2 separate regions of the Homo sapiens genome follow, and region 2 is linked to region 1. Evidence: fine-mapped expression QTL. A gene starts in region 1. The other region holds a variant in brackets. All regions are shown on one strand. Distances are between the middles of the regions. Region 1 holds the start of SIRPB2 (signal regulatory protein beta 2). Region 2 has its middle 43 kb from the start of SIRPA.

The links. PIP is the estimated chance that this variant, and not a neighbour inherited with it, causes the effect.
Region 2: its variant is the best candidate, but not a certain one, in a credible set for the expression of SIRPB2 in monocytes (Schmiedel 2018, PIP 0.51).

What each region holds. Positions count from the first base shown.
Region 1 is chr20:1,489,838-1,492,755 of GRCh38, forward strand. It overlaps SIRPB2 (signal regulatory protein beta 2), which reads right to left and starts at 1,583. Exons shown (of 5, transcript NM_001122962.2): 1 at 1,438-1,583. The coding sequence starts at 1,522.
Region 2 is chr20:1,850,665-1,853,582 of GRCh38, forward strand. No RefSeq gene overlaps it. Among named protein-coding and RNA genes, the nearest start is that of SIRPA, 43 kb to the right of the region's middle. The variant A/G (reference allele first, on the strand shown) is at 1,345.

The sequences.
Region 1 (2,918 bases):
GTAATTTGTGAGGCCAAGTGCAAAACGGGAATGCAGGTCCCTTGTTCAAAAACTATTGAGCAACACAGCAGAACATTAAACCAAGCATGGGGCCCTTCTAAGCAGGAGGCTCTGTGCCACTATATAGAGGGCACACCCAAGAACCAGCCCTGACTCAGCTTGAGATGCAGCTGGACTCAAACATTCCAACTGACTGGTTTAAGCAACTTCTCTTATTTTCCATCTATTCTATTGCAACAATCATTGGGAATATTTTTTATTCTGAGTAGTTTAGATTTCTGATTTCCTAGTCTAGTGCCTAAAACATAGCAGACACTCAAAAGTACCTGTGGAATGAGACCTAGCAATTATGATTCACATCTTAGAATTGAGGAAATCAGCTTAGAGAATTGAAGTGGTGTCTTGAGTCATACGGCCAATGAGTAAGGGAGCACCTAGGTCCGACCCCACACCTGGGTTCTGCCAGGATCTCTCCTGGGGATGGCCACCCCGGAGGACCAAAGATGTCATGGACAGAATCTAGATCTCAGTAGAGCCTGGAGCAGAGGCCCAGATGGGCAGGAGATGGAATGAGCCCACTGAGAGCCAAGTATCCCTGCCTGGTAGATCAGAGAGTTCTGGACTCAGAGGCTGAGCTATATATTCAGGGGTCTCAAGACTCTGGAGCTAACCTGGCCTGCCCCTGAGTTAGAGGAAACATGGGAATGATAATAATAATCGCCAAGAGTTATCAAATCTTTGTTATGCCAGGCACTTATGGGTATTATCTTGTTAAATTCTCCTAAGAAAGTCCCAAGGTGGGTCCTATTTTTAGCTCCATTTTACAGTTGGAAAAACTGAGGCTCAGAAAGAAATTACTTAAACTGGTTAGTGGTGAGGTTTGAGCCTACTGCGTCTTAAGCTGAGCCAGGGCTGGTTCATGGCTGTGCCATCTATGTAGTCGCACAGGGCCCTGTGCTTAGAAGGAGCCCATGCTTGGTTTACTGCTCTGCTGTGTTGCTCAATACTTTTTGAACAAAAGACCGCAGTTTTCATTTTGCAGTGGGTCTCATAAACTATGCAGCCGGCCCAGGGCTGAGCCTCACCACTTTTCTATTTAATACTCACAGTAGCCCTAGAGAAAGGTCCCATGAGCGTCCCTGTTTTGTAGAAGAGGCTCCTGGGGCTAAAAGAGCTGCAGCATCTGACGTGGGCATAGGAGCAATCAAGCTGGAAGCCAGTGGGTGTGAGCGCAGAGCCTGGGAGCTTATCACTTCACTACGCTGCTTCTTGGGACACTGGGGGTGCCCTCTGCCGGAGTCAGGCAAATTTTCAGTGGACCCCTCTTTACTCTATCTTCATGGGGTCAAGCTTCTTCAGGCATGGCAGAGCACTTAGTGCCCCTCTAGGGACTGACCAGCCGGGGGTGGACCCTGTTCTATCCTAGACCCCACTTACCTGAGGGGACAAGGACCAGTGCCAGCAGCAGGAAGCAGGGAGGCAAGTGGGCCAGGCAGGTGGGGGCCGACATCGTGGAGCACATGGCATCTTCTGTGGTCCCCAAGACTTGGGGCTCCTCTGCTCTCTTGTGAGTGTTGGAGTCTGAGGCGGGGCCCGTGGACAAGGCAGTTTCTGCGTCTCTTGGCCACAGCTGCTTGGGGAAGTGTTTTCATTGCAGCAACACAAGGCTGTTGGTGCAATAGGAAGGAGCCCGGTCAAAGGGTTTCCTGCTTTTGTGTCTGGGCTGTGATTCCTGTAGTCACTGTGCTAAAACCTTGCCATAGGCTCCATCCTAGGTGCCCGGGAGGGAGGTGGGCACTGAGGTCATAGGACGCACTCCAGAATCGGGTGGAATTTGGAGCAAACATTGGATCTTCCTCTTCTTGGCTGTGCAAGATTTCAAAGTCACTTCCCATTTCTGAGCCTTTTGTTTCTTCATCTGCAGCGTAGGAACAACGGCAGTTCCCTCCTCAGAACAGTTTTGGTAAGATTATGAGAAATAATGTGAGGGCACAGAACAATGTAAATGCTAAACATATTAACCATTATTATTCATGATGTGCAGAAAGTAGAGGAGGTGACATTGCTTAAGAAGAAGGATTTATTATAAAGCAAGCCCCATGGGGGCCTCCTTTTAGCACTGCAGGGAGGGTACAGGCCTAATTCCTAAAAGTATAATCATGTGTAACTCTCTCAGCCTCTGTTTCCTGGGGTCCAAGTGAAACATACTCAGATTGTGCAAACATTTGCGTTTGTGGCATCTTTGTTTCCTGTAAGTGATCTGAACTTCCTCAGGAGCCTCCTGGTGCTGGCTATCAAGAAGGAAAAGCTTAATCTTGCCAATTCATGCAATCCAGGCAATCTCTTTAGCCACACTGTCTGGGTTCAAATCTTGGCTTTACTCAGTCTGGCTGTGTGACCTTAGGACAATCATTTGACCACTTTATGCCTCGGTTTCCTCATCTGTAAAACAGGAATAAAAATGTGGTAGCATGTGTGGGGTGGAGTAAGCACTCTATAGGCTTTCACCATTGTCTTTTAGGTTAACTCAGTCTTTTAATTAACTCAGGGAAAAGTACAAGAACAACTCAGCCTTTCATTATTTCACTTCCTCCCTCATGCTTCAGAAGGTTCTGGGTGCAGAGGAAGCTGAAGATTCTCCAGCAACAGGGTGGCAGGCCTTGGATCTGAGTATGTCCCCTGGGTCCCAGAGGTCTGGTGTCTACTATGAGGAGGTTAGTCTGGCCTGGTCCCCAAGGACTTTGCACTGGGTCTGTGACTGGTCTTTTCTAGACTTTTGAGGCCTTGCATTGATACCCCTGCTCAATTCCATTACTCCCTCTACTTGTTCTCCTGTCAATGAGATCTATATAGTGAAACTTCTTTGAAAGGGCCACAAGCCTAGATGATTCCACCAGACCCTCAGTACTTTCCATGTC
Region 2 (2,918 bases), 360 kb after region 1:
AACCATATGTCTAATCTCAAGTCAAAAATTCAAGGTTTATAGGGTAGGGGCTAGGCTTGTCAGCATTTCCCAATGATGTCCTGTCCCACGATAAAACAATTCTGGGGACAATACATTCTGGAAATGCTACATGAAATCTCCCCCTCTTGAAGCTTCACATTACACATTTGCATATAGAAGAATCTAAGGGAAGCAAAAAAAAAAAAGTTTGTCAAACTTTGCTTAATCCAGTTCTTCAAACTTATTTAACCACATAACTCTTTTTCTCAAAGTTCCTGTTTGCATCTCTGTCAGTTATCATGCTTTAACTTGCATCAGAAACCTCAGTCAAGCTGGTTTATGCAACCGGAAGAGTACATTAGCTTTTGAGACTGAAAGTCTAGAAAACATAAGGGCCTCAGGTAGAGTTCAATCAAGGCCTCGGCTCCATCTCTTGAGGCTTCCCTTGTGTCTCTATCCCCCCTTCTGTACACTCGTAAGCTTCATCCTCAGCCTGGTTTACCCCATAAGAACAAAATAGCTGCAGCAGTTCTGGGCATCATATTCAAGTACCCCACTGCACAAAGAAGAGGAGCCTTCTCTTTTCATTACAGACTGGATGTCCTTGCTGTATTTAGACCATGTACTTATCTCTGAGCCAATCACTGGGCAAGAGAAATAAATGGGCATCAGCCAATGAGAGCTTACCCCTGGGATGAAATCATAACATCTTCCACAAAGCCTATGACAATGTCTTCCTTCTAGTAACACATATCCCAGTAATCTCAGCTATCCCATCCCATTCTTTGCTAAGGAAACTGATTTGTGTCCACAGCACTGGTGAGCCACTGATCTCAAAGAGGGTAGGCCCCTAACATGAACTCTGGGGGTGAATCTTGATTGGTCCAAAGATCATGGTAACCTTATTTCTCTTCACCAACGATTGGTTCAGAGATGGCCATAGGACTTGGTTCTAGCTAATGAGATGCAAGCATCTCCTGGGTGGGGCTTCTAGAAAAGCTTTTGTCTTCTGGTGCAAAAAATAGACTTAGATGGCATATTCCTTTGCTCCTTCACCTTTCCTTCTTCTTCATACCTGGAATGAGGATTTGATACCTGGAGGTGTGGCAGCCATCGTGGGACCAAGAGGCAAAAACTGCAAGAATAAATGCCACAGTCCCAGAGACTGCAGAACAGAAAAATAGAGCCCAAAGGCTAGACAACATTGTTGGGCAGCTGTGCATAGTCTGGAATGCTATCTCTTGACATCTTATTATGAAAAATTGGATTGGAAATACATATTTGTTTGAGCCAAAGACATTCATTACTAACTGACCAAAGCCAAGTCATTTTTTGTAAAATAGG[A/G]CTTGTGAGAGCCTTGAGACACAGCCTTGAAGACACAGCTTGAGTATCCTTGAATTCCAGATACTTTCATAAACAAGTTCTGCCCAAAGATGTTATAAGAAAGCAGATTGTCCAAGCTTTGCATCCACCCCAGCAAAGAGTTGAGTGTTCCCTGTGTGAGAGGGGCACCAGGAGTCATGGAGCGTCAGGCTGGGAGCCCAACAAATCCCATGGCAGAGTGTCCCATGTTGCTTTGAGGTTTATAGAGGAAGCTATGACAATGCCAACTCAAAAGTACATTCTTGAATTCAGATACTGATTGAGATGCAGCGAAATCTATCCACAGTCTTAAGCTCATCTCACTCTTCTTATATCCTAGTAATCTTACTTCTGAGCTCTCTTCTGATAAAATAACCCATAATAAGCAGAGAAAAAGCCAGGAACATAATTTTCATGACAGTTACATTTACAATATCCTCCTCATCCTGCCCCAGCCCCACCAAAAAAACTGGACAAATCTAAATGTCCTATAACAGAGGAAGGATTTTAAAACTATCTGTTCAGTGGAATATTACATGATCATAAAAAATGATGTTTGCAAGTTTATAATATTATAGCACAGGGGAAAAGCCGGCTGTAGCATTATATATATTATGTATAATCTCAATTATAGAAAAATTGCATGAGGGAAAAATCAACCATGAAATAAAGACAGTAACATGTTAATAGTGATTATGCTTGGTTACCGTTATTATGGGTAATTTGTTGGGGAATTTTTCCTGCTGTTATATATTTTCCATTTTACCTATATGTTCTACTTTTGTAAGCATAAAAAATAAAACTGGCTCTTCTTTTAAAAGCTTCCAGGACCCTCCAATTTGTGAGATCATTGCTGTTGTCTCTCCTCCAGTAAAGCAGGTAATCAAGGACTGCCCAGAGCTGGTGACCCCATTCTGCACCAGGCCAAAATAAAAACAGCTTCCAACTCCAGCATATTTGATTAACAGCTTGAAATTCTTTCAAGAGGCAAAATGAATGGTAGGGAAAGGGGAAGATCAACACCCTATTGTTAAATGGTGATGTGAGCTTGCAGGAACTAAAGGCAAAAAGAGGTACACACCATTCCCTGCCTTATGCAAATCGATGCAAATAGGACACACTCTCTGGCTAAGCAAGAATTCCAGGTCTGAGCTCCCACCTGGATCCTGGGTCTCACTGAGGAGGGAAGGAAGCAGTGAGAGGAGGGCATAGTGATGACCCCATTCATTGAGCACCTACTAAGTGTCCCACTTGCAAAGCATTTTCATGGCCTGGAGCTCGTCTACCACTCATCACCGCTTGTGATGAAGGTAATATTATCACCCACTGTTTGAAGGCAAGTCAAGTGGAGCTCAGAGTGGGAAGTGGCCTATGCAACGTCACAGCAGGACCAGCCAACTCCAAAGCCAGTGGTATCTGATGACCAGGCTACGCAACCCTGGGATACAAGTGCATATGGTGCCTCTGGTGGGATCTAGGGTCAGTCCTCAGTGTGGAGGAGAGAAGAGATGTATAGGTTGTCGGGACCACAAAGCATGAAGGTCTGGAACTCCTGG